Homo sapiens: one gene and its partners. The protein of the gene in region 5 purifies or fractionates together with the protein of the main gene of each other region. This does not show direct contact. Each region holds a gene or a part of one and is shown on either strand. Other genes may lie near its edges. The genes, in order: TRAP1, OTUD5, GPI, RAP1B, MYLK4, USP28 and UBLCP1.

What was found.
Region 1: the proteins of MYLK4 (region 5) and TRAP1 purify together in Homo sapiens (affinity purification with mass spectrometry; one large-scale study listed by BioGRID and IntAct). This does not show direct contact.
Region 2: the proteins of MYLK4 (region 5) and OTUD5 purify together in Homo sapiens (affinity purification with mass spectrometry, with the first as the bait; one large-scale study listed by BioGRID). This does not show direct contact.
Region 3: the proteins of MYLK4 (region 5) and GPI purify together in Homo sapiens (affinity purification with mass spectrometry; one large-scale study listed by BioGRID and IntAct). This does not show direct contact.
Region 4: the proteins of MYLK4 (region 5) and RAP1B purify together in Homo sapiens (affinity purification with mass spectrometry; one large-scale study listed by BioGRID and IntAct). This does not show direct contact.
Region 6: the proteins of MYLK4 (region 5) and USP28 purify together in Homo sapiens (affinity purification with mass spectrometry, with the first as the bait; one large-scale study listed by BioGRID). This does not show direct contact.
Region 7: the proteins of MYLK4 (region 5) and UBLCP1 purify together in Homo sapiens (affinity purification with mass spectrometry; one large-scale study listed by BioGRID and IntAct). This does not show direct contact.

What each region holds. Positions count from the first base shown.
Region 1 is NC_000016.10:3,675,812-3,680,101, forward strand, and holds part of TRAP1 (heat shock protein 75 kDa, mitochondrial isoform 1 precursor), read right to left. Parts: exon of another isoform or gene 3,980-4,290; coding exon 3,908-3,979; exon of another isoform or gene 1,848-3,907; coding exon 1,687-1,847; exon of another isoform or gene 335-1,686; coding exon 225-334; exon of another isoform or gene 1-224.
Region 2 is NC_000023.11:48,940,160-48,944,449, reverse strand, and holds part of OTUD5 (OTU domain-containing protein 5), read left to right. Parts: intron 1-166; coding exon 167-260; intron 261-4,290. UniProt on the Homo sapiens protein: Deubiquitinating enzyme that functions as a negative regulator of the innate immune system. Has peptidase activity towards 'Lys-48'- and 'Lys-63'-linked polyubiquitin chains. Can also cleave 'Lys-11'-linked ubiquitin chains (in vitro).
Region 3 is NC_000019.10:34,395,830-34,399,978, forward strand, and holds part of GPI (glucose-6-phosphate isomerase), read left to right. Parts: intron 1-471; coding exon 472-601; intron 602-751; coding exon 752-828; intron 829-3,377; coding exon 3,378-3,506; intron 3,507-3,726; coding exon 3,727-3,802; intron 3,803-3,889; coding exon 3,890-3,956; intron 3,957-4,071; coding exon 4,072-4,149. UniProt on the Homo sapiens protein: In the cytoplasm, catalyzes the conversion of glucose-6-phosphate to fructose-6-phosphate, the second step in glycolysis, and the reverse reaction during gluconeogenesis.
Region 4 is NC_000012.12:68,655,316-68,659,605, forward strand, and holds part of RAP1B (ras-related protein Rap-1b isoform 1 precursor), read left to right. Parts: intron 1-990; coding exon 991-1,134; intron 1,135-1,785; coding exon 1,786-1,872; 3' UTR 1,873-1,902; intron 1,903-3,964; 3' UTR 3,965-4,290. UniProt on the Homo sapiens protein: GTP-binding protein that possesses intrinsic GTPase activity. Contributes to the polarizing activity of KRIT1 and CDH5 in the establishment and maintenance of correct endothelial cell polarity and vascular lumen.
Region 5 is NC_000006.12:2,684,609-2,688,898, reverse strand, and holds part of MYLK4 (myosin light chain kinase family member 4), read left to right. Parts: coding exon 1-48; intron 49-3,322; coding exon 3,323-3,416; intron 3,417-3,493; coding exon 3,494-3,603; intron 3,604-4,290.
Region 6 is NC_000011.10:113,865,112-113,869,401, reverse strand, and holds part of USP28 (ubiquitin carboxyl-terminal hydrolase 28), read left to right. Parts: intron 1-4,088; exon of another isoform or gene 4,089-4,150; intron 4,151-4,290. UniProt on the Homo sapiens protein: Deubiquitinase involved in DNA damage response checkpoint and MYC proto-oncogene stability. Involved in DNA damage induced apoptosis by specifically deubiquitinating proteins of the DNA damage pathway such as CLSPN.
Region 7 is NC_000005.10:159,276,307-159,280,596, forward strand, and holds part of UBLCP1 (ubiquitin-like domain-containing CTD phosphatase 1), read left to right. Parts: intron 1-1,931; coding exon 1,932-2,048; intron 2,049-4,290. UniProt on the Homo sapiens protein: Dephosphorylates 26S nuclear proteasomes, thereby decreasing their proteolytic activity. Recruited to the 19S regulatory particle of the 26S proteasome through its interaction with 19S component PSMD2/RPN1.

The DNA of each region.
Region 1 (4,290 bases), on a different chromosome or scaffold from region 5:
AGGTCCGCCTCAGCCAGGCCAGCTTCCTCCCAGTCCCAGCAGGAGCTCGATGCTACGCAGCCCTGGCGGGCAGCCCCCCTCCCAGTCCCGCAGCGGCTCGGCCCTTCACGGCTCTGCCTGTGCACCCTACGTGCAGGTAGAACCAGGGAAAATGCCTGCTGACCTGGTGGCCTCCAGGCCACACATGGATCCCAGAGTGAGCCTGGGCCCGGGCTCCCGCTCACCTCGCACCCGGGCCTCGCTGGAAAACTCCTTGCAGTCGGATTTCAGGTGGATGATGATTTTTGTCCCGGTTCTAACTCCCGAAGCTTCGGCGATTTCAAACACTCCAGAACTAAGGCAGGCAAAGAAAGGAAAAGCCAGGTGGATGTGACACTGGGACATACCCTGCATGGGACTCCAGCGGTTCCCGAGGGTTTCATAGGCAGAGCCCAAACAACACACAACACACCTCAAATGCCCCATTTCTGACCCCAGCGCACCACTCAGGCCATCACATGCCCATCAGGAACGATGAGCCTGTCGCAGGCGGCAGAGTTCTCCTGGTTCCCTCGGGCGGGGGGCGGGGGGGCGGGGGTCCTCCACCGACCCTGGGCTTCGAAGAAGCTTCTGGGCTTACCCCAAAAGCAGGCCTGGGGCACTGTGGGGGACTGGCCCAGCTCCAAATCGGGTGCCAGATGCCCAGGGGCAAAAACAAAGGCCAGGGGGACAGGCGCCCCCTAAGAAGAGCAGAAAACCATCTCCGAAGCACAGGAGGGGGGAATCCCCCGGCAGGGCCATGTTGATGCCTTGGCCTAAGTTTACTCTGAGCCCCGCTCCCATGGAATTAAACAGGAATGTTAGTTTTGGGAGAGTGGGGAGTCAAGCTGAGCACAGTGCACACACTGTGGAGCAGAAATGGCATCACGGAGGGAGGACGCCTCGGCTGGCTGGAAGCGGCTCACCTGCTAAAAAGCCCTCGGAGCCAGGCGTGGTGGCTCACGTCTATAATCCCAGCACTTTGGGAGGCCAAGACGGGCAGATCACCTGAGGTCGGGGTTCGAGACCAGTCTGACCAACATGGAGAAACCCTGTCTCTACTAAAAATACAAAATTAGCTGGGCGTGGTGGCATGCGCCTGTAGTCCCAGCTACTCAGGAGGCTGAGGCAGGCCAATTGCTTGAACCTGGGAGGCGGAGGTGGCAGTGAGCCAAGATTGTGCCATTGCACTCCAGCCTAGGCAACAAGAGTAAAACTCCGTCCCAAAGGAAAAAAAAAAAAAAAAAGCCCCCAGCAGGCTCCTCACCCTATAGAGGCAGAAGTGGGCTGGGGAGACAAAGCCAGGAAATGCCAGGGCTGGGAGGAAGCAGAATGAGCTCTTGCAGAAGGTCGGTCACAGGAGGCTGCATAGTGTCCACCAGGCGACAGGCCAGTCCTGCAGCTCAGCCACTGAGAAAGGAGCTCAGCGCGGGCCGGACCTGCCTTCCCGAGCGCAGTGGTGGTGACCAACCACATGGGACCAGACAGGTGCCATAGGCCACCTGGAGCCACAAAAGTCACTAACTCCCCAAAATGGGAGAGTCAGATTTCATATAAAAAGCCCAGAAAATGCCTGTGTACGTTTTCTGAGTCCATCCCTTTCCAAACTCCATGCTAAGGGCTCCAGCTCAGCTTTGAGCTGCCTGTCAGGCGACATTCGTCACTCACCCATCTGAAAGCCACTGGTAACCCAGGCTCCCCGGGGCTGCCGAGCGGGAATAGACCTCCACTCTGTCAGCCACCATGAAAGCTGAGTAGAAACCCACTCCAAACTGGCCGATGATCTTGCTGCTGGCCTCAGCCTGGTTCTGCAGAGCATCCAGGAAGGCCTGTGGGGCAGAGGCCAGTTAGTGAGGCAGCCTCCCCTCCAGAGAGCAGACACTCCCAACACCGTGGCTCTTCTGCGAGCACCGCTAAGACCCCTTCATCCTGAAAACAGCCACACCGAGTACTTTTCCACCCCATTCTACACGTGAAGAGCTAAGTCACAGAGAGGTGACACATTAGCCCTAGGACAACCAGCTGGCAGCAGTGGGACAAGTGTGTTTTCCATTTGATTCCCAAAGCTCACAGTCCTGCCTGTCCCAGACAGGTGGAGGCCTGTGGGTCACACCTGGGGGTGGGGAAAGAGCAGCTTGAATAAGCTCTTTCCCTTGAATAAGCTCCTTCCATAGGAAGGCCAGGAGTGAGGAGAGGCTCCAAACTGGCTTCCATATTCAAGTCTCCTGGACTCTACACTTTGTGGGAAAAAGAGTAGAAATCACGCGCATGCGTCTGTAAGCACCGCACAGCACTTCATTTTTCTACTATAATACTGCCAAAGGTCCTAAGGCCAAAGTCAAGTAAAATACACACGCCCACTGCCCTGGCCCACGTTGTCCGATGGAACTTTCTCCAACAACAGGAACGTTCTGCCAGGTGCAATGCGACAGCCTGCCGAGCACCTGCAATGTGGCCTGTGCAGCTGAGGAGCACAATGTCCCCTTTTATTTAATTTGAATGCATTTACATTTAAACTGCCACATGCAGCTGGTGGCCGCTACACAGGACAGCAGACCAACCTCGAGAGAAATACAACAAAAGACGTAACGTGGGGGTCAAGTCACAGTTAGGGTGGGTTTTTTGTTTGTTGTTGTTGTTGTTGTTGTTTTTGAGATGGAGTGTCGCTCTGTCGCGCAGGCTGGAGCGCGGTGGCGTGATCTCAGCTCACTGCAACCTCTGCCTCCCGGGTTCAAGTGATTCTCCCGCCTCAGCCTCCCGAGTAGCTGGGATGACAGGTACCACCACCACGCCCAGCTAATTTTTGTATTTTTAGTAGAGACGGGGTTTCACCGTGTTAGCCAGGATGGTCTCCATCTCCTGACCTCGTGATCCACCTGCCTCGGCCTCCCAAAGTACTGGGGTTACAGGCGTGAGCCACCGCACCCGACCTAGTGTTTTCATCTTACAGATGAGGAGACTGAAGTAAGTGCTTTGCCCAGAGCTGGAAAAGGGCGACCGCTGGAGGTTCCCAGGCTGTTGGTCTGAGTCCAAATGTGTTGCTCTGCCTCACAGCACTTTTCTGCAAAGTCGATTCCCTGAGCCTTGTGGGCTTGACGCAGAGAGGGTCAGAGGGATCAGTCCCCTCTCACACAGCGCCGTGATGAGAACGGGCTTGGGATGCGGCGTCTGTGGGTTTGATGGTTCTGGTCAGAACTGCTCTGTGGGTCTGGGCATAGTGACGTGCACCTGTAGTCACGCCTCAGGAGGCTGAGGCTGGAGGATAGCCCGGCCAACATGGTGAAACCCCGTCTCTACTAAAGATACAAAAAATTGGCCAGGCGTGGTGGCTCGTGCCTGTAATCCCAGCTACTTGGGAGGCTGAGGCAGGAGAGTTGCTTGAACCGGGAGGCAGAGGTTGCAGTGAGCCAATACAGTTGGTCCTCCTATCTACGGGTTCCACATTTGCAGATTCAACCAGCCAAGGATCGAAAATACTCAGAAAAAAAATAAAAAACAACACAATGATAAAAAGTAGTATAAAAAACATAACTATGTTATATCTATATCTAGCATTTACATTCTATCAGGTATTATAACTAACCTAGAGACCATCTAAAGCATACAAGAAGATGTGTCTACAATATACGGCACCAATTTAATCCGGGACTGGAGCATCTGCAGACTTTGCTATCCAAGGGGGGTCCTGAAACCAACCCCTAGATACTGAGGGACCAACCCCCAGATACTGAGGGATGGCTGTCATGTCATGAGGTGTTCCCACAGTACCCACTGCGTGGCATGCAACTGACAACGTTCTTACTTAATCTGGCACCCAGGGCCACCCCTACTGGAGGGATCCTTGCACCCTGAGGGGAAGGGGGAGGCTGTGTGGGGGCCCCACGCTTACCTTTGACCCCGATCTGGCAATCGTCCCCAGGTTGGACACCAGCTCTTCCTGTGTCATCCCGATACCAGTATCCTGAGGAGAGAGACGCACTAAGTGCCAAGCCCCCAGCACCTGGGGAGCCGGGTGAGTGCACCAGCAGTCCCAGGGACTCAAGTGGTGTCAATGACATTGGCCAGACAGGGCCCAGCCAGGTAGCACCAGATGCTCATCAGAAAAGACTAATTCTAGGGGCCGGGAGTGATGGTTCATGCCTGTAATCCCAGCACTATGGGAGGCCAAGGCAGGCGGATCACTTGAGGCCAGGAGTTCAAGACCAGCCTGGCCAACATGGTAAAACCCCATCTCTACTAAAAAAGAAATTAGCCAGGCATGATGGCGAGCAC
Region 2 (4,290 bases), on a different chromosome or scaffold from region 5:
AGAGTCTCCTACTTCACATGCATGGAGTGGTCAAACAGGGCTGAGAACTTTACCTTGGCCAGCGTCCTCTCTGTCAATGATCTAGGCCTCTCGGGAGCTTGAGGTCGGGGCCCTGGGGAGGGAGTACAGGTTTTCCCTGTTGCTGACCCCCACCTCTTCCCTCCAGCAGGAGCATTGGTTTGAAAAGGCCCTACGAGACAAGAAGGGCTTCATCATCAAGCAGATGAAGGAGGATGGCGCCTGTCTCTTCCGGGCTGTAGGTGAGTCTCTGCCTTAGTCCTTAAGGGCCTAGGGCTGCCCCTAAGCTGTGTCCCAGTTATCAGGAATAGCCCCTGAGACAGGGTTGAGGCAGAGCTAGCTAATCTTTTAGGGACTCTAGGCTCCAGCCTCAAGTTGGTATCTGACCTCTAGCCGTGGGTCTTGAGACATTGTAGTGGTGCAAGATTAATATGCATAATAACAGCAAGAAGAATGATAAAGAAAATAATATCCTTTGGGACACATTGTCAGGTGCTACAGGAAACCTCTTTGATTCCCCTCTAAGCTAGGTGAGTGTAGGGACTACTGTTGCTTCCATTTGTCAGATGAGAAAAGTGGCTCAGAGATGGTGGGTGACTTGTCTGGAGTGAAATAATAAGTGGTAGAGTTGGGATTCAGTGTCTGGGTTAGATTAGTCTGAGGCCCATGCTCTTAACCATAGCATACTGCTGCCACCCTGGGCTGTATGACCCCTAGGTTTATACCCAGATCCCATCTCTGGTGTGTTGCGGGTCTCTGTTCCTCAATCTGTGTGTATGGGGGCTATCAGACTAGATCTTTACAAATTTCTTATATCATAGAATTTTTTTTCAACTTATATAAAAGTAGAGAGAATGATGAACCCTCATGTACCCATCATCCAGCTTCAAAATAGTCAATACGTGGCCAGCCTTGTTTCATCACTATCCCGCCCACTCTTTCTCACTCCCCTGAAAGAAGAGTATTTTTAAAGCAAAACCCCGACATTGGATCATTTCATTCATAAATATTTCTGTATGTTTCTCTGACAGATACAGACTTACTCTCTTCTTTTTAACATAATCAAAATGCCATTACTGCACCTAACAGAATTAATAATGCCTTAATACCATCTGTTATCCAGTCTGAGTTAGATCTTTGAGGCCATTTTGGCTCTGAATCTGTGACCCAACAAGTAGTTGTGAGGTCCTGTGCTAGGGTGAAGGGGAAGCTGGGAATGTGACCTGATCCTCCCTGTGGTTCTCTGATATCTACCAAGGAAAAGTGCCCTCTGATAGGAGCTTTGAGCTGGGAGTCAGAAGACCTACCTTCTAGTTCTGGCCCTGACTCATAACTGCTGTGACACTTGGCCTTGGTCTTCCCGTCTGTGAAATGGTGTTGATTCTCAATGCCTCTTTGAGTTCCTTCTTGGTCTGCTATTCTCTCCGTCTGTGGGTACCCCCCATGTCTACTGGTGGGCTGGGGTGTTTTAGGCTCCATCCCTGGCTGCACAACTGATTCTTGGTATGACCTTAGGCAAGCAGCTCTTCTTTCCTGAGGCTGTTTCCTCATCTGTAAAATGGGGCTAAAAGACCCTAATGCTGTAACGATTTAATGAAGTTGCTTTGGTAAATCCCTTTAGTGCCTGACACATATAGTAGACCCTCATGGAACAGTAGCATTTGTAAAACCCAGATGCCATTTTCACTGGTGCCTCAGAGTCACATGTGTTTGTTGAAAGGGTGGAGTGAATGGTCTCCTCTCTATTCTGCCAAGCAGAAGAGGCTCAGGCAATGGGCTCTATTGGACTGGGAAAAAACTTATCCCTCCTACCCCTCTGGCTCAAGTTTGTGTTTTCCCTGGGATGTTTCCCAGAGGAAGAGCTGGGTTTCGGGGCATCTTGGACAAAAGAAAGGCAAAGAAAGAATAGGTGGGGGCCTGTTAGGTGCTAGGCCCTGTGTTGAGACCTCAGGCTAGATGTGGGGTAAGCAGGGCTTCTGGTGGAGTTAGGATTAGAGAATGCAGCGGGCATCTGAGTCTTGGGCAGTCATTGAGGGTAAGCCTTGGGACTGGCTAGTGAGGACCTGGCTTGTGTAGTAACTCATATCAAGAGCCGTGTGTGTGTGTGTGTGTGTGTGTGTGTGTGTGTGTGTATCTAGCTAGCTGTTCTCTGTGTGTGTGTGTGTGTGTGTGTGTGTGTGTGTGTGTATGTGTGTGTGTATCTAGCTAGCTGTTCTCCCCAAATACCCCCGACCCTTGGGGCTAGCTAGTGAGGACCTGGCTTGTTGTAGTAACTCGTATCAAGAGCAGTATTTGTGTGTGTGTGTGTGTCTATATGTATCTAGCTGTTCTCCCCAAATACTCCCGACCCTTCCTCCCACTGGGGCCTTCAGTAAGGGGCCTCTACTTACAGGAAGAGCTGACCAGGGCAGGTTGAAGGCCTTTCCTTATCGGCACTATGGCTACACATTTCCCCTGACTGGGCTGCCTTTGGCTTTTCTCTGTAAAACCTCAGAAGTCCTCTGGCCTCTCCCCCGAAGTACATGGCCCTTGGTCTCTAGACCTTATCTGGAGGTTTCCTTGGTGCAGAGTGCATAATACATGTGCCTGGGAAGGGGACTTTGTCCCTGGGCTTTTTGCTGCCCCCGTTTCCAGCCTCGCCTGGATGGGGACAGATGGCAGTCAGCTTAGACTGTAGTGTGAAGCCCTACAGGCTGACTTCCTGCCATGTGTTGAATAGTGGAAGGAACGTGGAGCAGAGAGTTGGAGTTGGGCGGGGGCTGCAAACATAGAGGGCACTGTTTCCTTGACCCCTGCTGTGTGCTAGGCATTCAGCTGGGTGCTTCAGGCTCACTGCAAAACTTGGATCATTATCCCATGAGACAGGTGAAAAGATTGAAGCATAGAAAGGGAAATGACATGCTCAGGGCCATTAGCCAGAGCTGGCCTGGGAACCCAGAGGTGTCCAAAGGACACGCATTCTTTTTTTTTTTTTTTTTTTTTTTTTTTTTTTTTTTTTTGAGATGGAGTCTCCCTCTGTCGCCCAGGCTGGAATGTGCAGTGGCGTGATCTCGGCTCACTGCAACCTCTGCCTCCCGGGTTCAAGTGATTCTTCTGCCTCAGCCTCCTGAGTAGCTAGGATTACAGGCGTGCACCACCACACCTGGTTAATTTTTGTGTTTTTAGCAGAGATGGGGTTTCACCATGTTGGTCAGGCTGGTCTCAAACTCCTGACTTTGTGATCCACCCGCTTTGGCCTCCCAAAGTGTTGGGATTATAGGCATGAGCCACCGCATCCGGCCAGGACACATTCTTTTTATGATCCTAGGATCCTTAGCTTCTTAGCTTGGTTGTCAACTGGCTGGATGACCTTGGCTGTGTTCCTTGACTTCTCTGGACCTTACCTCCTCCAAGTAGGAGCACGTGGCCCTCTGTTGTTGGGAGTCTTGAGGCAGGTGGCTTTCTGCCTTCTGTTCCCCTGGATTATCTTCCTATAGGGTCCTACCATTTGCTTTAGAGACTTCTGAGAATTGCCTACTCCCCAGGTAGCTGCCTGCCTGCCATTGGTTCCCCTGAGTTAAGCAATATCCATTGCTTGCGCTCAGTTCTCTCCCACCTCCTCTTATTGGGGATTCATGAGCATCATTGAAGGCTTGGGTGGAGTGGAGGTGGGAACCTGAGCCTCAGAGGTATCCTGTGGCCCACCCTGTCCCTGTTATGCTCAGATAACCTCCTCCTGGAAACATGACTCTGCATCTCTCCCTTGCTCCCTCCCTCCATGTGGCTTTGACTCAGCAGAAACCTCTAACCCTGACCAGGGTCCTGGTGCTAGCTTCTGTGGGCAGAGTGAAGGCCACATGGTTGTTTCTACATGGGCCATGGGGGAGTGGCAAGGGCTGTGCATGTTACCACGATGAGGCCCAGAAACATTAGCTAGGCCCACTCTTCTGGGCCTTTTGGTCTTGGAACATCAGCACTAGGAGGGATGGATCTGAGATCAATTTTGATTGTTTTATAAATGGGGAAACTGAGGCCTCAAGAGAAAGCCAAGACCCTACCCTATCTAGGTCATACAACCAGTGTCAGAACATTGGTATTTGAGGTTGAACCAGGCCACAGAAAGAAGATTCCCACGGGCCATTTCCTGTACACCAGCTTCCTTCAGCCTCTCCCGTGTATCCTTCAGGTTTCTCATCCTTGCAGTGGGAATCCTTGAGCAGAGGAGCACACATCTCAGGAACCAGACTATCCAGTGGGATGAGTTCTGTCTCTCCCACTGAGGGTATGCTAGTT
Region 3 (4,149 bases), on a different chromosome or scaffold from region 5:
GGCATGGTGCAGGAAGGAGCAGGATTTGCGTACAGTGTGTGAAGGATCAAGACTTGCAGGAAGAGGGTTGGGTTTTTTTTCTTTCTTTTCCTTTCTTTTCCTTTTTTTTTTTTTTTCTTTTTTTTTGAGTTGGAGTTTTGCTCTTGTTGCCCAGTCTGGAGTGCAGTGGCATGATCTCGGCTCACCACAACCTCCGCCTCCCGGGTTCAAGCGATTCTCCTGCCTCAGCCTCCCAAGCAGCTGGGATTACAGGCATGCGCCATCACACCTGGCTAATTTTGTATTTTTAGTAGAGACAGGGTTTCTCCATGTTAATCAGGCTGGTCTCAAACTTCCAACCTCAGGTGATCCGCCTGCCTTGGCCTCCCAAAGTGCTGGAATTACAGGCTTGAGCCACTGCGCTCAGCCTCTTTCTTTCTTTTTAAATGTTCTTTCATTTTGCCAAGAACTGGGTTTCTGTTCCTTTTCCAGGGCGACATGGAGTCCAATGGGAAATACATCACCAAATCTGGAACCCGTGTGGACCACCAGACAGGCCCCATTGTGTGGGGGGAGCCAGGGACCAATGGCCAGCATGCTTTTTACCAGCTCATCCACCAAGGTAGGCCCCTGTGGCCTGGGAAGGGTGATGTTGGGGGAGGGAAAGGATCTTCCAGAAGAGATATCTCACTTAGGTCAGTGCCCTCCTCTAGGCCATATGGCTAGCTCCCATGGGCTGGGGTCATGTGGGTGACCACAGTGCCCTTCACAGGCACCAAGATGATACCCTGTGACTTCCTCATCCCGGTCCAGACCCAGCACCCCATACGGAAGGGTCTGCATCACAAGGTAAGAGCCCCCATCTGGCCCCATCTGGGGGGTCTGGCTCACATTGCACCCAGACCTCTGAAAACCTGGTGCATTGGTTGGCAATCACGTTAGTTTTCTATTCCTGCCGTAACAAATGATAACAAACATGGAGGCTTAAAACAACACTCTTCTTTTGTGGGGTGGGGAGGGGGGACAGAGTCTTGCTCTGTCGCCCAGGCTGGAGTGCAGTGGCACGATCTTGGCTCACTGCAACCTTCCCCTCCCGGCCTCAAGTGATTCTTATGCCTCAGCCTCCCAAGTAGCTGGGACTACTGGCACTCACCACCATGGCCAGCTAATTTTTGTAGTTTTGGTAAAGGGGGGGTTTCACTATGTTGGCCAGGCTGGTCTTGAACTCATGACCTCAAGTAATCTACCTGCCTCGGCCTCCCTAAGTGCTGGGATTATAGGCATGAGCCACCTTCCTGGGCTATCTGAAGAGTTTCTGAAGCTCAAATATCCAGCAGGCCCTGATGTGTCTCTGCTTAGAGTCTTGCAGGCTGAAATCAAGGTGTCATCAGGACTGTGTTTCTTTCTGGAGACCTTAGGGGAAAAGCCTTTGACCTGCTTGTCAGGTGGTTGGCAGAATTCATTTCTCTATGGTTGTGGAACTGAAGTCCAGCTTCCTTGCTGTGGGCTGAAGGTCGTTCTCAGATTCTCAGAGGTCACCTGCATCCTCTAGCTTGTGGGCCTCTTCACTGCAGAACCAGCAATGGCAGGTTAAATCCTTCTCTGAAGCTTTGATTCTGTCTTGCCACTTCTGTTGCATCTCTCTGACTTGTTTACCTTCCTCTTCTACATTTTGCTTTTGTTCCCTAAGTGACAGTGTCATGCTGTGTTGTCTAGGCTGGACTTACAGTGGCATGATCACAGTTCACTGTATTCTCAACGTCCCAGGCTCAAGCAGTCTTCCTGCCTCGGCCCCTCAAATAGCTGAGACTTACAGGCACTAACAGGCACTTACAGGCACTTACAGGCACTAACAGCCTGGCTAACTGTTAAACTTTTTGTAGAGGCCAGATTTCACTATGTTGCCTAGGCTGGTCTCCAACTCCTGGGCTCAAGTGATTCTCCTGCCTCGGCCTCCCAAAGTTTTGGGATTACAGGCATGAGCTACCGTGCCTGGCCCTCTTTTACTTTTAAGGGCCAGTGTGATTAGATTGGGGCTACTAGATAATCCAGGAAAATCTCCCCTTTTGTTTATTTTATTTATTTATTTTATTTTAGAGATAGCATGTCACTCTGTTGCTGAGGCTGGAGTGCACTGGCCCAATCATAGCTCACTACAGCCTTGAACTCCTGGGCTCAAGCAATCCTTTTATCTCAGCCTCCTGAGTAGCTGGGACCACAGATGTACAACATGCCTGGCTAAGTTTTTTTTTTTTTTTAAAGAGACAGAGTCTTGCTCTGTTGCCCAGGCTGGGGTGCAGTGGCACAATCAGGCTCTCTGCAGCCTCACCCTCCTGGGCTCAAGCAATCCTCCTACCTCAGCCTCCTGAGTAGCTGGGAACAGGCACACGCCACCACACCCAGCTGATTTTTTTATTTTTATTTTTTGTAGAGATGGAGTCTCAGTATGTTGCCCAAGCTGCCCTCGAACTCCTTCAGAGAATTTACTGTGCTTTGTCTCAGGTGTGCAGAGCAGCACAGGGTTACGGTAGCACAATCTTGGGAGTCAGTGAGCTGGATTGAATTCTGATTGTTCCTGTCTATAGTTCTGTGATCCAGCACTGTGGACTTGTGGAACCCAAGGCTCTACTAGAACAGGGCGATGATGCCTTTCCTCCTTAGGATCTTAGTATTATTTTTTTTTCGAGACACCGTTTCACTTTGTTGCCCCGGCTGGAGTGCAGTAGTGTGACCTTGACTCACTGCAACCTCAGCCTCCTGGGTTCAAGTGATTCTCGTGCTTAAGCCTCCGGAGTAGCTGGAATTACAGTTGCACACCACCACGCCCAGCTACCTTCTTAGGATCTTAAAAGATAGATGTTGGTAAAATTGTGAGCAGGACCCCTAGCAAGTGGTGTGTAGTTCTTTTTTTTTTTTTGAGATGGAGTCTAGGTCTGTCGCCCAGGCTGGAGTGCAGTGGCGTGATCTTGGCTCACTGCACCCTCTGCCTCCCAGGTTCAGGTGATTCTCCTGCCTCAGCCTCCTGCCTGATGACAGGCATGCGCCACCATGCCCAGCTAAATTTTTTTTTGGTATTTTTAGTAGAGACGGGTTTCACCATGTTGGTCAGGCTGGTCTCGAGCTCCTGACCTCGTGGTCCATCCGCCTCGGCCTCCCAAAGTGTCGGGATTACAGGCGTGAGCCACCGCGCCTGGCCACTGGTGTGTAGTTCTTAAAGAGCAGTTATCACTGTTCCCTGCCTTGTGGTGTCATCGGATGTGTCCCCCTCGCTCCAACTGAGCTGTACAGCGAGTGACCCAGGCTGGGACTGACCCCTGCTGAGAAGTACCAGGCGGTCTTGTCCCTCTGCCTGAAGCCCAGACAGTGCTCTCAAGCATAACTGATGTCTCGCTCATCAGATCCTCCTGGCCAACTTCTTGGCCCAGACAGAGGCCCTGATGAGGGGAAAATCGACGGAGGAGGCCCGAAAGGAGCTCCAGGCTGCGGGCAAGAGTCCAGAGGACCTTGAGAGGCTGCTGCCACATAAGGTCAGCACTTCTGCATTTGGCTTTGGGGTGCATGCTGGAGTTGGAGGTGTGAAGCTATGGCACCAGGCAGGGGCTTGGGGCGTGCCTGGCTTGTCCTACAGAATGGGAGGGCCTGTCCTCACAGACCTGCACGTCTCAGCCTCTGGGGCAGGGTGTGCTTCCCTTCAAGGGGTTTAGGGATCAGGACTCTCTTGGAGACATTCCTTGGTGTTTTCTGCAGGTCTTTGAAGGAAATCGCCCAACCAACTCTATTGTGTTCACCAAGCTCACACCATTCATGCTTGGAGCCTTGGTCGGTGAGTGAGTAGGGGAAAGGTCCTGGCTTGGGGTAGGTTGGAATGGGCTTGTGGAGCCCTGATGTGCCCTGTCTGTCACTTCTGCAGCCATGTATGAGCACAAGATCTTCGTTCAGGGCATCATCTGGGACATCAACAGCTTTGACCAGTGGGGGTGAGTTGCTCACTTAGGGGAGGGCCGGGAATACCTTTGTGTCGGCTCAGGGATTTCAGTAGCAACGTTAGAGCCTTCCTCATACCACTCTTCCCTTCCCTTCCCTTCTTGGCAGAGTGGAGCTGGGAAAGCAGCTGGCTAAGAAAATAGAGCCTGAGCTTGATGGCAGTGCTCAAGTGACCTCTCACGACGC
Region 4 (4,290 bases), on a different chromosome or scaffold from region 5:
CTCAAAATAAATACATAAATAAGACTCATTGTACTGCAGTTTAATTTTAGCAAATATTGTGAGAGCTGGGAGACACCCATGGTAAATGCTTTTATTTTCTGGACTTCTGAAACAAGGGAATTTGGGGGGACCCTACATAATTACAGCAACCTCAGGGAACATTTTTTAATTTGTAAATCCATTTAATAAGTGGCTTGATTTTTAGTAAATTTTGATTGGCTTTTTTTTTTTTTTTTTTGAGACGGAGTCTCACCCTGTCGCCCAGGCTGGAGTGCAATGGCACGATCTCAGCTCACTGCAACCTCTGCCTCCCAAGTTCAAGCAATTCTCCTGTGTCAGCCTCCCAAGTAGCTGGAATTACAGGCGTGTGTCACCATACCCAGCTAATTTTTGTGTTTTTAGTAGAAACAGGGTTTCGCCATGTTGGCCAGGCTGGTCTCCAACTCCTGACCTCAGGTGATCCACCCGCCTCGGCCTCCCAAAGTGCTGGGATTACAGGCGTGAGCCACTGTGCCTGGCCTTGATTGACTTTTTTAATACAAGACTATGAGAAACTAAAAATTCTATTTTGGGAGCCTTCCGTCCATTATGATAAAATTTTAAGGTTTTTTCCCCCCATCTCTCATAACAGGATCATAGCTTGTTTTCTCAAAAGTTTATGTAAAAGTGTCTTATTTATGTCTACATTGACTAGGTTGTGTTCATTTTACTTAACATATGAGAGTTTTCTTTCTCTCTTTTCTTCCCTTTGGAGTTATCGTTTGCATCTCCATGAAAAGAGAAGGCAGTGGAGATAATTGACATCAAAGTTAATACTTATGTTTATGTTACAGATTAAATTGTTAAGGCTGTAAATTTTATTATACATTATTTAATATTTTTTGTGGCATATGAAAAGTAATTCTTAGATTTGACTCTTAGAATTCTTTTGATTTGAATTCATATAGCATATTTACTTATTTATTTTTACTCTCACAAATGTATTTTTAGGTTCCAATGATTCTTGTTGGTAATAAGTGTGACTTGGAAGATGAAAGAGTTGTAGGGAAGGAACAAGGTCAAAATCTAGCAAGACAATGGAACAACTGTGCATTCTTAGAATCTTCTGCAAAATCAAAAATAAATGTTAATGAGGTATGGTCAAATATACTTAAAATGGGTCTTCATTTGAAGTACAACATTGAAGATGAATGGAAAATGTCTTAACCCCAAGTTAATATGTACTCAGGGTAATATGTTGATGTTACAGGCAAAAAAAAAAAACCCTCATGTTAAATGTATCTATGTAGTAAATAAACAATACTATTTCAGTCTCTATTAAATACTTGTACATTGATATTTACCATGAAAAAGGAAGACTGGACAGAAAATACATGGATAGGGAAGACAGATTAAGACTTCAGGTATATGAAGGATGTTATATGAAAAATAGAGTAAAATTCCGAAAAGTATGCATGGTTCTTGAAAGGCTCCAAGTCATGTTGTAGAGCAAAAACTTACAGTTTTTAAAAGGATTTTTTCTTTGTGTGATGGTAAATGTTCTAATTGAACTAAGTTAAGATCTCTGCAGCTCCTTCAACTAAGTATTTTAAGGAGCACAATATTAACACTCCCCAAAAATTTGAGCTTGGCAGTTATAACACCTGATTTTATTCTCATTCCTTAGCTGAACAATTCTGGGCATTAATTTATATCCATGGAAATTTCTGTTTTTTCAATTTACTTTTTTCATTGGGGGGGATAGGTGTTCCTCCTGTAAATTAAAACAAATTATTGTATTTGCAGATCTTTTATGACCTAGTGCGGCAAATTAACAGAAAAACTCCAGTGCCTGGGAAGGCTCGCAAAAAGTCATCATGTCAGCTGCTTTAATATACTAAATGCATTGTAGCTCTGAGCCAGGTATGTTCACTTATCTTTCCTCTAACTTTTAATCACTCAACCTTATTAAGGGCACTCTGTCATGAAAGCAAGTATAGACTTCTTTTTGTTGGTTCTGAAAAATAAATGGTTTATTTTTATAAGATATCCATGAGTTAGTATGCTATCTTATTAATTATTTACTTATCATCATGAGTAAAGTATTTCACATAAGTATTCTTTTTTTGAGATGGAGTTTCACTCTGTCACCCAGGCTGGAGTGCAGTGGCGCAATATCAGCTCCCTGCAACCTCCGCCTCCCAGGTTCAAGCAATGCTTCTGCCTCAGCCTCCCGAGTAGCTGGGATTACAGGCACGTGCCACCACGCCCGGCTAGTTTTTTTGTATTTTTAGTAGAGATGGTGTTTCACCATTGTTGGCCAGGATGGTCTCAATCTCTTGACCTCGTGATCTGCCCACCTCGGCCTCCCAAAGTGCTGAGATTACAGGCGTGAGCCACCACTCCCAGCCAACCCCGTCCCTAATTTAAAACACACACACACACACACACACACACACACACACACACACACACACACGTGCGCGCGTGCGCGTGAGCCACCGCTCCCAGCCAACCGTCCCTAATTTAAAACACACACACACACACACACCCCTGACATGTTCATCATGTGCCAGTCACACACACACACACACCCCTGACATGTTCATCATGTGCCACTTTTTTTTTTTTCCTTCAACTTTTAAGTTCCAGGATACATGTGCAGGATGTGCAGGTTTGTTACATAGGTAAAGGTGTACCATGGGGTTTGCTGCACAGATCTTGCATCGGTACCTGGCACATAGTTAACACTCAACTATTAGCTGCTGCTGTTTGCCAATGATAATGGTTTCCTCTTCAGCTGTCATTAAACTGTTTATTGTTAAACTGTTAATTTATTCTTAAGAACCTTTGACATTCCTGACTCTTATTTCTTCCTATGTTAATTGACTCAGTGCTGCCATAGCACTTTGATTCTGCATCTTTTCAGAGTTTTTATTCCTGCCTTCCATCTAGGGCTTTCTGTTTAGTGGTATATCCTCTCATTCTAATATCCTATAATTCCTGACCACATGCCCATTCTTAGCAGCACACATGTGCTTGAGCTCACACACTTCCATCTGTCCTTTTTAATTTGCAACAGTCTGCCAGGATTTAGAAAACTTGATTGCAAACCTCATTCAGACTCAGAATGAGGACCTAAAGTTCTAGGCATTTGTGAAAATTATTTCAACAGCCACATATGTATTAACAACTCTTCTGGAGCTTGTAACAAGTCTGATCACCAGAAAAATATAATAGGGAACATTTTTTTAGCCGAGGCATGTATGCAGAAAACTATTCAAAGTACATATTTAACAATTCTAAGTTTACTTTTTAAAATCTTTAATTACATGTGATTTTAGTGTAATACCACCTTTTTCTGACATCAGTCTTAATAGAATGTTTAAATATGGAATTAGAAATTATATAACGTGATTGTAAATCTGTAAAACACCATCATGAAATAAATTCTATTTGTCTGCTCTGAACGAGCTTTTTAGCCACTTTCATTGAAAGAGTGAGGAAGAACTTGATTATCTGATACTAGAAACCTTGGTTAGATGTGCATTCTATACTTATGATCTAATTCTAGGAGTACATTACGATTGTGTAAACACAGGATCACCCAGTTTGTTAATATTGCTATCTGACTTTTCAATCCTAATTCTAATAAGGTTGACTTGACTAACAATTTTAATGTGATTTTTTTCCTTTTTAATCCTTGGAAGGTAATGCACAAAAATTTGCACAAAGGTACTTTCCCTTTCTGTTCCTAAGATTTTCATTTAACTGACTTTCAAGAGGGCAGCAGAATAGACTTCATCTTTTTGGAATGAAAAGGTCTGCCGTGAATTGTGGTATGTTGCCACTAATGTAATGCCTAGAACAAGAGCCTAGATTATATTCATTTCTAACACTTTTAAGACTGTTTTCTTAACTGTTTGCTTTTGGGTCTTTACTTTTTCTAGCCCATGTTTTTAATTAATTTTTTTCCTTTTGACAGGTCTGAAGAACTGTTGCCCAATTCAACAGTGCCAGCATTCCAACTTTGTTAAACCTACCAACATCTTAAATGGACTTTCCTGTGGTGGTACCCTTTAAGAGGCGGATGAAAGCTACTATATCAGTTTGCACATTCTAATCACTTTCCAGTATCACAAGAGAGATTTTTACTTATATAATAGTCCTAGAGTTTGCAGCTGGTAAAACCAGAGGCTACATCCAGTATTACTGCTAAGAGACATTCTTCATCCACCAATGTTGTACATGTATGAAAATGGTGTACTGTATACTTTAACATGCCCCATACTTTGTATTGGAGAGTACAAT
Region 5 (4,290 bases):
AGCGGTCAACAGCTTCTATACTGTGAGCAAGACAGAAATCCTAGGAGGGTGAGTAAGGCTGAATGTTAATATTCTCTCAACAAAAGAAGAGAGCGTGCAAATGACTTCGTAAATGTCTGCCTGTCTTGACCTGAGAACTAGAAACATTAGAAACAAACATTTTAAGAAACAGTAACCATTTCTGAAAATTGTCACTGATGCCAGAAAGGTTAATGTGGTGACTAAACTCCACATTTATTATCTGCTTTACTTCCCATGTTGTAATGTCTAAAAGAAAGAAAAACCCATTGTGAGTCACCAGAAGGTTGACCAGCTGTCCAAAGCCATAGTGCAGCCTCCAGGAGACAGAAGATAGAAATGAGTCAACAGCGTGTAGTTTTTGTGGCCTGTATTAGGTCTTTCTGTCATTGCTGCTGGTTTTTCATTTATGTTGTTACTATATTAATTACTATTATTCATTTCAATTGATTACTTTGCTCAGCAAATAACTTATTTTAGGGACATTTAAACACACATTCTCCCTAAAGAAGGAAGATTAAAGGCCTTGCGCGGTGGCTCACGCCTGTAATCCCAGCACTTTGGGAAACTGAGGCGGGCAGATCACTTGAGGTCAGGAGTTCGAGACCATCCTGGCCAACATGGTGAAACCCCGTCTCTATTAAAAATACAAAAATTAGCTGGGCGTGGTGGCGCATGCCTGTAATCCCAGCTACTCGGGAGGCTGAGGCAGGAGAATCGCTTGAACCAGGGAGTTGGAGGCTGCAGTGAGCCGAGATCAGGCCCCTACACTCCAGCCTGGTGACAGAGTAAGACTCTGTCTCAAAAAAAAAGAAAAAAAAAGAAAAGAAAAAAAACCAGAAGGAAAATTAAAGTCCATCAGGGACCCGCTTCCTGCTGGGGGTGGGGAGAGGGTGTTCTTCTTCGTTTACTTCTTTCACAACCCCCCGTGATATCTTGTAACTCAAAGTCTAAATTATAACGTTTGCTGCCATCGGCATGTCTGTGTAAAATAGGAAGAGGAAAGCAGAACATCTGCACGTATACATACAAAATGTACTCACCAACACAAGGAAAGCACGCATCGCTACTGCAGTTCAGGCGTCTGCAAGTGGTCTTCAGGGAGTCCTTGATATTTGTGAAGTCCCTTCCTCCTCTTCCCACTCCGTATTTCTTTGCCCTGTGCCGAATGGAACCACCTGGACTTTCCCTTCCTGATCTGGCTGATCTCATAGAATGCCCCATGAGACTGCGGGGATGGGCTGAGGGAGAAACAGGAATTCCACAGCATGAACTGGCTCCATGGAAGCCTGAGGTATTTGGGCCTTCAGGGACATCAGTGGCAAGCCAGCAACTATTTCTCTAACCGAGAATAGTTATTTGCAGAAGAAGCTTTGAAAGAATTCCCAGGGTTTGTGCTGTTTTTCTGGTCAAGGTTTGTCAATTGCTCCTTTGAAACTTCCTTTCTGTCTGTTTGGGCACCATGGGATCTTCTCTTTGGTACTGCAGTCTAGACCAGCTGCCCGTCAGCTCTCGTTATGGGCTTCACCAAAATTGGCAGCCGTAATTCACTCAGCAAATAAGTGAGAGGAGCATGATCAAATGTGCGTGGATGCCTTCAAAATGCAGACATCACCAAGTGCTGCACCTCCTTTTAAGTGGTAGCAGGTTCAAGATGTAGCAACTTATCTTTTACTTTTGGCAGAAATATTGCAACATGCCAAGGACCACTGGATCCCAAAAACCCTGCCCACAGGGGCAGGCCCCTGAATTTTCCTGGGAGTTCGTCTCCTGCCCTGTGGCCTTGAGGGTATCCATCATCCCTGCTTGCCATGTTCAATGAGCATAAGGTTATCACTGTGTTGAACCAGCATGAATCCTGGGAGTTGGCCTCAACCTTCAGGGCCCTTGCACAATAAATCAGGGGAAAGAGTCAGAAGGTTGAGGGAGCCGGGAAGTCAGACAGTGATGGGCACCACTGCTGGCTCAGGAGGTTCTGCGGCCATTGCTAGTGAAGGGGAGAAACCATTTCCATAACAACCAATTAAGAGGTGGCTGGGGCTGTGTCCGTGTGTTCCCATAGAGACTCTATCTGGAGCAGAGGTTGGAATTGAAGTCACGCCGTGGCTACGTTTATGGTAATCCTGTGTCATTCTCCAAGATTCATCTGCCTCTGTGCTGGGTGTGCAGCCCCACAGTAGGATGCAGCGGCCGCCAGTGCCCCTGCATCTGCCCAGCGTTGCCATGACTTTCATCGCTGAAGTCCTCTGCCTTGTCATAGGGCTTGCCTCGGGTTCACTGTGTTGCTAGGGAAGCTGTTCCTCACTCCCTACTGTGACATCCACCATTGCAGAGCAGGGACACGTGTTCTAGCTTATTTTACTAAATAAGAAATCAAACTAAGCAAATTAAATTTAAAACTGCTCACAAGTGTGCACATCTGTATGTGATTACGTAGGTAAGAAGCTGTCTTGTGTTTATATTCAAGCTCATAGGTGACTTGGCAATATGCAGTCTTGACTATATGGATGTATATGCAGTATTGTTACATATGCAGTTTCCAAAAATAATTTTATATATCTGAAGGTGGGCTCTCTTGTTCATATGCTGGCAAAGCCCAGCTCATAACATTCATATGTATTCAGAAGGATTCTGCATTGTCTGTAAAGGTGGTTCTCAAATGTGAGGGTGCATATGAATCACCCAAGAAATGTGCTGAAATGCAGATTCTGGGGCCTACCCCTGGATTCCTGCCTCAGGAGGTCTGGGGTAGGGCCCAGAATCCTGGATTCTTTTTTTTTTTCTTTCTTTCTTTCTTCTTTTTTTTTTTTTTTGAGATGGATTCTTGCACTGTCGCCCAGGCTGGAGTGCAATGGCGCGATCTCGGCCCACTGCAACCTCCGCCTCCTGGGTTCACGCCGTTCTCCTGCCTCAGCCTCCCGAGTAGCTGGGACTACAGACACATGCCATCACATCTGGCTAATTTTTTGTATTTGTATTTTTAGCAGAGATGGGGTTTCACTATGTTGGCCAGACTGGTCCTGACCTCGTGATCCTCCCGCCTCGGCCTCCCAAAGTGCTGGGATTACAGGTGTGAGCCACCGTGCCCGGCCGAGACCTGCTTTCTTAACAGCTCCCAGGTGATTCTGATGCAAGTGATCCACACACCACATGTTGACAAATACTGCTCTAGAAGTTTACTGAAAGAACTCCTCAGAGGGCTGCTCATCCAGACTCAGCAGGAGAAATACTGGGGCCACTGTGCGCTGTCCACTCGGCAGCTGACCACAGGGCCTCATGCTACGCCGCTTCCTCTTTTTGGCAGAGGGCGTTTCGGCCAGGTTCACAAGTGTGAGGAGACGGCCACAGGTCTGAAGCTGGCAGCCAAAATCATCAAGACCAGAGGCATGAAGGACAAGGTACAGCCTGTGGGAGGTGGTCCCCTCCCTCCCCGCCCCATCTTGACCACACTAATGCACTGTTTCCTGCTTCTCAGGAGGAGGTGAAGAACGAGATCAGCGTCATGAACCAGCTGGACCACGCGAACCTCATCCAGCTGTACGATGCCTTCGAGTCTAAGAACGACATTGTCCTGGTCATGGAGTAGTACGTATCCCCTCCGCCCCCTCCCTGACCTCCCCAAGGGCACTCATGACCGTGACCGTGCCTCAGTAGCTCCGTCCTGCTGTAGCGGGACCAGAACCAAGCTCGCCCCCGCAGACTCTGATTCGCGCGGATCACACAATCACATCAGTTCTAGAAGGGAAACACTTGGGGTTACAAATCTCCATATGGGATTTTATTGCTAAGAAGTAGTGGGACCAAGTAGATCTAGCTTTGTATCTACGCTGTTTGTCAAAAATCAAGCTTAAATATTAGCCAGGGCAACCTGGAGGAAAGTGGTTTTTGAGCTACATCTTACTTTCAACATATTCACTAATACAAAGGTCATGTCAACAACTGGTGATGATTAGGGCTAAGAAGCTTCCATTTAAACTCACCTTTATAAAAACATAAGGACTGGTTAGTTAGAAACCGAGTACAGTCATTACTTGGTATCGGAGAGGGATTGGTCCCAGGATCCCTGCAAATACCAAAACCGGAGGACACTCAAGTTCCTGACATAAAATGGCATAGTCTTTTGCATATAACTTATGCCTATCCCCCCGAGTACTTTAAATAATCTCTAGACTACTTACAATACCTGATAAACTGTAAATGCCACATATACAGTTGTTATACTGTATTTTTTAAAAATTTGTATTATTTTTGTTGTTGTATTGTCAATTTTTA
Region 6 (4,290 bases), on a different chromosome or scaffold from region 5:
GATGGAGTACAGTGGCGTGAGATCAGCTCACTGTAACCCCCGCCTTCCGGGTTCTATTGATTCTTCTGCCTCTGCCTCCCAAGTAGCTGGGATTACAGGCACATGCCACCACGCCTAATTTTTGTATTTTTAGTAGAGACGGGGTTTCACCATGTTGGCCAGGCTGGTCTTGAACACCTGACCTCCGGTGATCCGTCTGCCTTGGCCTCCCAAAGTGCTGGGATTATAGGCGTGAGCCACCGAACCCAGCCTGTGGTTAATTTTAAAAGTTTTTTTAGCAATGGGGTCTCTCTGTGTTGCCCAGGCTGGTCTCAAACTTATGAACCAAGTCATCCTGCCTCAGCCTCCAAAAGTGCTGGGATTACAGGCATGAGCCACCGTGCCTGACCTCAGATGTTAGTATGCCTTATAAGGGCCTCATATGAGATTTATTTTATTTATTCCTTTTCTTTCTTTTGTCTTTTTTTTTTTTTTTTGAGACATGGTCTTACTCTGTCACCTAGGCTGGAGTAGTGCAGTGGCTCTATCATGGCTCACTGCAGCCTCAACCTCCTGGGCCCAAGCAATTCTCCTACCTCAGCCTACAGAGTAGCTGGAACTACAGACATGTGCCACCATGCCTAGCTAATATTTTTAGTTTTTGTAGAGATGGGGGGTCTCTTTATGTTGCCCAGGCTGGTTTTGAACTCCCGCGCTCCAGTGATCCTCCCGCCTGAGCCTCCCAAAGTTTTGGGATTACAGGCGTGAACCATGGTACCTATCTCTTTTTTTCTTTATTCGTATGAGATTTTAAACTGAAGTCTGTTTGCTTCTATCTTACAGATGAGAAATGCAGCTTATGACCATGATTGAATTATAAGTAGCAGAGCTGTGACTTCAAGCCATTCTGACTTGAAGCATAACATTTCTCCGACTTTAGTACAAGCCTTTCTAAAACCAAAGTTTCTGACTTACCACTTGACTATGTAGCACTTTAATAATTTTAATAACTTTTCATTGAACCCTCATAGGCACTCTATGAAATAAAATTTAGTATGAGCAGGAAGTAGAATTTGCAAAGTGACACAGCAAGTAAGTGATAAAACCAAAACTATAACACAGGATATCAGTATTTTTACTGTAAACTCTAGAGGAGTTTAGTTGAACAGGCAAGTCCCAGTATTTTTCATTTCTATTGCATTTCTTCATTTTGCTAACAATTTATTTGCAGTACTTCCTTTGATAGTCATACAGGGCTGTCAAAGCTTTTGGTGTACTTCATTTTCCATTCTGGAAACTGATGCTGAGGAAGATTGAGATTTGCCAGGAGGCTGATGTGTGCTGGAGTCTGGGCTGCATGGCACTATTTCCAGCGTCTAGGCTTTCTACGTAAAACAGGGGTCAAAATATCAGACACACAAAACCAAACTAAAGATCTGCCTCAGTAAGTACCAGCTGCATGCTACATGATGGCTGGTAGGCACTTTAACCCTAAGAAGATTTTCTAAACAACATTTTCTTTTTCAATCTTCTTGCCCAAGTTAGTACTTTCTTGTGTCCCCTCCCTCCCTCCCTTCCTCCCTTTCTTCCTCCCTCCCTTCCTCCCTCCCTCCCTCCCCCCTTCCTTCTTTCCTTTTGTGTGGGGATGTGTATACAGGTTTCCTTATTCATTTGTTTTTTCATAGAGTTGGGGTCTAGCTATGTTGCTCAGGCTGGAGTGCAGTGGCTATTCACAGGCATGATCGTGGTGTACTACTGTTTGAAAATCCTGGGCACAAGTGATCATTCTGCCTCAGCCTGCTGCAGAGCTGGAACTACAGGTGTGTGCCACTGCACCCAGGTGATTTTTTTTTTTTCAATTGAGGCAAAATTTATATAACATAAAATTATTTTAAAGTGGGGCTGGGTGAGGTGGCTCACTGAGGTCAGGAATTCAAGACCAGCCTGGCCAACATGGTGAAGCCCCGTCTCTACTAAAAAATATAAAAATTAGCCAGATGTGGTGGTGAGCACCTGTAATTCCAGCTACTTGGGAGGCTGAGGCAGGAGAATCACTTGAACCCGGGAGGCAGCGGTTGCAGTGAGCGGAGATCATGCCACTGCACTCTAGCCTGAGTGACAAGAGTAAAACTCTGTCTCCAAAAAAAAAAAGTTCAAGTGTACAAGTTCAGTGACATTTAATATATTCACAATATTGTGCAATCACCAATTCCGTCTAGTTCTAAAACATTTTCATTACCCTGAAAGAAAACTTTGTAACCATTAAGCAGTCACTCCCTATTCCCCCATGCCCTCCACCCCTGGCAATACCAATCTACTTTCTGTCTCTAGATTTACGTATTAGAGAGATTTCATGTAAATGGATCATGCAATATGTGACCTATTATGTGTGGCATCTGTCGTTTATTGTAATGTTTTTGAGATTTGTTCAAGTTGTAGCATGTATGAGTTTTTCATTTTAATCACTGAGTAATATTCCACTGTATGTATAGATATGTTTTGCCTGTCCATTCTTCCATTGACGGACATTTGAGTTATTTACACCTTTTGGTTATTATGAATAGTTCTGTTATGAATTTTCATATACTTGTATTTGAGTACCTGTTTTCCCTTCTTTTGGGTATATACCTAGAAGGAATTGTTGACTCATATGGTAATTCTATGTTTAACTTCTTGAGGAACTGCCAGACTGTTTTCCAAGGTTGCTGGGGAAGTTTTATATTCCCACCAGCAATACACAAGGGTTCTAGTTTTTCTCTTTTCTCATCAAACACTTGTTATTTTTTGTTTTTGTTAGATAACAGTCATCCTAATGGGTGTGAAGTGGCATCTCATCATGATTTTGATTTGGCCATGTTAATGTTATGGCTAATGTTAAGTGTCTTCATAAACTTATTGACTATTTATATATCTTCTTTGGAGAAATATCTTTTTAAGTTCTTTGTCCATTTTTGAATTGGGTTGTCTCGTTTTTTGGTTGTTGACTTAAAGGGAGTTCAAAGAGAGTTTTTTATATCATCCAGATGCTAGACTCTTACCAGATAAATGATTTAAAAGTATTTTCTCCCATTGTCTTTTCACTTTCTTGATAATTTGTACACTGTGTATTTCTTTTTTCTTTTTTTTTCCCCAAGACAGAGTCTGGCTCTGTCACCTAGGCTGGAGTGCAGTGGTCTGATCTCGGCTCACTGCAACCTCTGCCTCCTGGGTTCAAGTGATTCTCTTGCTTCAGCCTCCCAGGAAGCTGGGATTACAGGCGCGTGCCAACACACCTGGCTAATATTTGTATTTTTAGTGGAGATGGTTTCACCATGTTGGCCAGGCTGGTCTTGAACTCCTGACCTTAGGTGATCCACATTGGCCTCCCGGAGTGCTCGGATTACAGGCATGAGCCACCGTGCCCGGCCAGCACTGTATATTTCTTGTTGGATTTCTTGATGTATGTGTTTATTTCTTGAATTTGTATACCGGTTGTCTTTTCACTTTCTTGATAATGCCCTTTGATGCAGAAAAGTACATCAGCCCACTTCAGTGTCCCAAGTAGCTGGGACTACAGGTACACACCACCATGCCTGGCTCAAAAGTGTTATTATTTTTTTCTTTTGTTGCTTGTGCTTTTGGTGTCATAGCTGAGAATCCATTGACAAATCCAAGGTCATGAAGACTTATCTCTGTGTTCTAAGAATTTTATAGTTTTAGTTATTTATTTAGGTTGTTGATCCATTTTGAGGAATTTTTGTGTATTGTGTGAGGTAGGGGTCCAGTGTGATTCTTCTGCTGTGGATATCCAGTTGTACCAATACCATTTGTTGAAGACATGATTTTTCCCCCATCAAATGGTGTTGGCACTCTGGTTGAAAATCAGTTGACCACAGATACGAGTTTATTTCTGGATTCTCAGTTCTATTCTGTTGGTCTATATATCTGTCCTTATGCCAGTACTACACTGTTATGATAACCGTAGCTTTGGATTAATACTAAGTTTTGATATAAGAAGTGTGAGTCCTCCAACTTTGTTCTTCTTTTCAATGTTGTTTTAGTTCTTCCAGGTCCTTTGAAATTCTGTGTGAATTTGAGGATCAGCTTTTCTGTTTCTGCAAGAAAGGCCAAAGCATTGCAGCTCTTTTAGAATTTGTCTAGCAGGTTTTCTGGTTTTCACTAGAGTTCCCCGCAACCCCCAGCCACACGCACACACAAAGGACCATTGGAATTTTGATAGGGATTACATTGAACTTTTGAATTGCTTTGAGTAGTATTGCCACCTTCACAGTATTAAGTCTTCGTGGCCAGACGCAGTGCCTCACGCCTGTA
Region 7 (4,290 bases), on a different chromosome or scaffold from region 5:
AAAGCACCCAAACTAATAGGAATTGAGGAGAACTTAGGATACGAGGAAACCTTAGGGGAGACAGTATTAAAATTATCAAAACCATAAATAGAATGATTTAAGGGCATGGGGACTTGTTCTATAAAGGAAATACTGCATGTATCGAGAAAAAGATAACTTACTATATACTAAAGTAAAATAATACATTTACAAAATCTTAACATTAAAAATTACTTAGGGAAATGTTAAACATGTTTTATAACAGTGAAAAATTAAAGGAATAAAAATAATCCTCAATATCCAGCAATAGGGCATTGGATATATAAATTACTGCTACCCATATAAGGGACTGTAGCTCGTCATTTGATGTAGTAGGATATGTAATGATTTAGAAATTTTCATGACACATTTAAGTGAAAGAAGTATTTTAGAGAACACTGTTGTAAGCCGTTAGAAAATAGTTCTTAACCTTTGTTTGGTTCAGGATTACCCTTAATTTAACAAAGAACCTGTCAACTCTCTGAGGCTGCTCTTGTTTATAAAAATGCCTGGAGTCAATGTATCAGAATATTGAGTTGTTGCCCTTGGTACTGACTAGATTATTGATTTAAAATTTTCCTTTATGCTTTTCAGTATTTTCATGTTTTTTTTCTGTAGTTAGCAATATTACTTTTCTAATTGAGAGCAAAGTAGTTTGTGTTTTGGGGAACATAGGTGCTTGACCTAATTAACAAATGACAGCACTTTTTAAGAGGATGTAGGATTTTTATTCTGGATGTCATAAAAAATGACCTCTGTTGTCATATTTCTTGAGGCTTTTGTTAGCTAAAAATCCACAAAATATGGCTTATTGTATTAATTCTTATATATTTGTCTTCATTTCGTGGGGGGAGTAGGGGGCGGTTTCTATTTCGGTAGTAAACAAGATCAGTAGCAAAAAAAAATCAGGAAAGTAAAATTTTAGTAAATTAAAATATTTCATTAACATTTTTTGTAATAGGCAAGACAATAGGAAGGAAAAAGCTTTCTCCAAATTAAATTATAGGAGGAAAAAAATTTTTAAGTTACAACTTTTATCACTATTTATTTCTTACCACTTAATCTCATATATTTATTATTACATTCTGTTCTCATAATACCGTAAGACTTCTGTCTTCAGCAAAAGTAATTTTCTAGAAATTTAAAAAATTTTCTGAATGTGTAATACATTTGCATGACTAAAAAAATAGTAAAGTACATAATGAAAAGTCATCTTTCACCTGGTACCTAGCCACAATCAGTGTTATTTCCTGTGTGGTCTTACAGAGACTTTACACAAATACCAACAGGTAAGACTATATAAGAAATTATTTATTTGAAGCTTCAGTTTAAGAATTCAGAAATAAGAGTAAGAATTTGTAAAATATGGTGCTTCCGAAGTTAAGCAATCAAATTCCCTAGAAATTATGCACCTGTGCCACTGAGTTAAAGACAAAACGAGTTTTTCCTCTATAAAATATTCAAATTATTAATTGAAAAAGCCAAATACAGTTTTTTTTTGACTAGGGTGTTCTAGTTTTGAAAGCAGACTCCATGTGACTCCCAAGCTCTGAGAAGGAATGTGTTAACCAAGGAAGTCATGTGACTGCATAGCAGACATCTAAACAATTACTTTGGATTTTTAAAAAATTAAATAATTTATTTATTTTACCCAAAATCTTCACGTTAAAATTATGGAAAGTTTTATAATGGGTTTAGTTCAGTTGGACATGAACAAACCTTTCAGAAGTTTTAATATTGCAAAATGCATTGTGCTTTAAAGTGGGTTGCATTTAATGATTAGCTCACACCTGTCTTACAGGGGGAAAGGAACACTTTGGCATTGTTCTGCAGGGCAGTTTGCAGTATTCCTGCTTTTAAGACAGGATGAAATATTGATAAAATTTGAGTTAAATGTAAACTTTTATTCTAAGGTAAAGCCTCTTGGTGTTATATGGGGAAAGTTTTCGGAGTTTTACAGCAAGAAAAACACCATTATGTTTGATGACATAGGGAGAAATTTTCTAATGAACCCACAGAATGGACTAAAGGTAAGACATACTTTTACTTGTTATGTGCTCATGTAATCTGGGCTGTGTGGTAGAACTTTTGTAGTAAGCACTGTTGAATTTCATATATTTTTGGAAGTACTGTATTCTTATGTCATAGGCGAGAAAAGTTTAAGAATAATTCATATAGAAATTGAACTTTGTCTTTTTTGCATTGATGTCTCCATAGTTAGCTAGTTCATCCAAGTATTTGTTTGTTTATTTATTTATTTATTTTTGAGACGGGATCTCACTCTGTCGCCCAGGCTAGAGTGTGGTGGTGCGATCTCGGCTCGCTGCAATCTCCACCTCCTGGGTTCAAGTGATTCTCCTGCCTCAGCCTCCTGAGTAGCTAGGATTACAGGCACGCACCACCACACCCAGCTAATTTTTGTATTTTTAGTAGAGACAGGGTTTCACCATGTTGACCAGGCTGATCTCAGGCTCCTGTCCTCGTGATCTGCCCACCTCGACCTCCCACAAGTGCTGGGATTACAGGCATGAGCCACTGCGCCCGGCCCAAGTGTTTTATTTTTAATTAGCTCTGTGGGAGCAACATGGGCTTCCCAACATTGACTTTTAGCATCCAAAGTGAAATCATTAGTTATTTTTTTAGGTATACAAATCTTGGCATTTTAAACATTCTGGTTAGCTTGAGAAATGGCAGTAAGGGTACTTTGTTTTTTCTTTTTAAACTGAAACTAAAGACGTTTTTGAAAATTCCTAGACGGCAAGTACAGATCTTAGAATTAGACATTGCCAGAGCTAGAAGGAACCACAGTCATCTCTTGCCTACCTTCTTAACTTTGGAAACAGTCTGAGGTTGAAGAAGTTCCTGACTTGCCCAAGATTGTATATGTAACTGGCTAATGACAGAATTTGGGTTAGACTCTAGTGACTTGGTTCCTAGGTCAGTGACAATCTTAGCATGCAACTGCATGCAGTCTTATGTGACATTTCATCCTGGTAACAGTATAAAATTGGTAAGAGTGAAATTTGAAATTTAAAAGTTTCTGGTACCCATAGTTGATTACATGTTGGCGCAATATGAAAATGGAAAAGATAGCTCTATACTATGGCACTATTGCACATGGAGTCTCCATTCGAAGTGGCAGTCCTGACACTGAGATGTTTTCATTCTCAGTCCTAAACTTTTCTACTAGCTGGGTCCTTGGTAGTTTTAAAAGACAAGAGAGAAAAACTTAAAAGTACATTTTTTAAACCTTTCTTACAGACTGTTGATTTGAGTTTTTGTTTACAATGAGGATATTTTAGGGAAAGAATACTAATCTAGGTAGTGAATTGCCATAAGTATAAAAACTGTTGACTTGGAAGAAAAGTGGTTATGTTGTCCTTAATGGTTTCTGTTTAAGGCTTGGAGAGAAGTGCTTTTCTTAATATGTACTGCACCAGGTAAAGGTACAAAAATGTATTCTTGAGTCTTGAGAAGAAATGTGGTTGATGTAAACCTAATTGTTTGTGAAACGAATGGTTATTACCTGTTCTTGCAAGGAGGTGATCCCATGATGGTCAAGGAATAATTTTGGAGGAGACGTTTAACTTTAAAAAAAAAAATACAATCATTAGTTTCATGTTTGTTTAAAAGAAACTTTGTTTTCCTAACCAACATTTGAGCTCCATTCATCTCTTGATGCAGGGAGAGATGTTATTGTAAATGTCTAGTTCTTTATGTTACTTTACAGTAGGGTTTTTAAAAGACTGTACTCAGTAGACCCACTGAAGGAATTCCTAAAAATACGTATGTCCCCATCCCCTAAATTCTAATTCCAGAGGTAGATTTAGACACTCCACAGGCTGTCCTTGTGTGTCTTTTATTGAAAACCTCTTTTTTATAAAATTAATCTACCCAAGATAACACTTCATGAAAACCTCTTTTAAGGTTAAAGATTAAAGGTTAAGATTAAGATTAAAGATCTGCCCACGTCGGCATAGAAACAGGTGGGGTTTTCTGACAGGGTCTTGCTCTGTCACCCAGGCTGGAGTGCAGTGGCATGATCAGAGCTCATTGCAGCCTCGACTTCCCTTGCTCCAGTGATCCTCACATGTCAGCCTCCCAAGTAACTGGGACTACAGGCGCACGTTACCACACCTGGCTAATTTTTGTATTTTTGGTAGAGACAAGGTTTCGCCATGTTGCCTAGGCTGGTCTCGAGGTCCTGCACTCAAGCGATCCACCTATCTCGGCCTCTCAAAGTGCAGGATTACAGGCATGAGCCACTGCGCC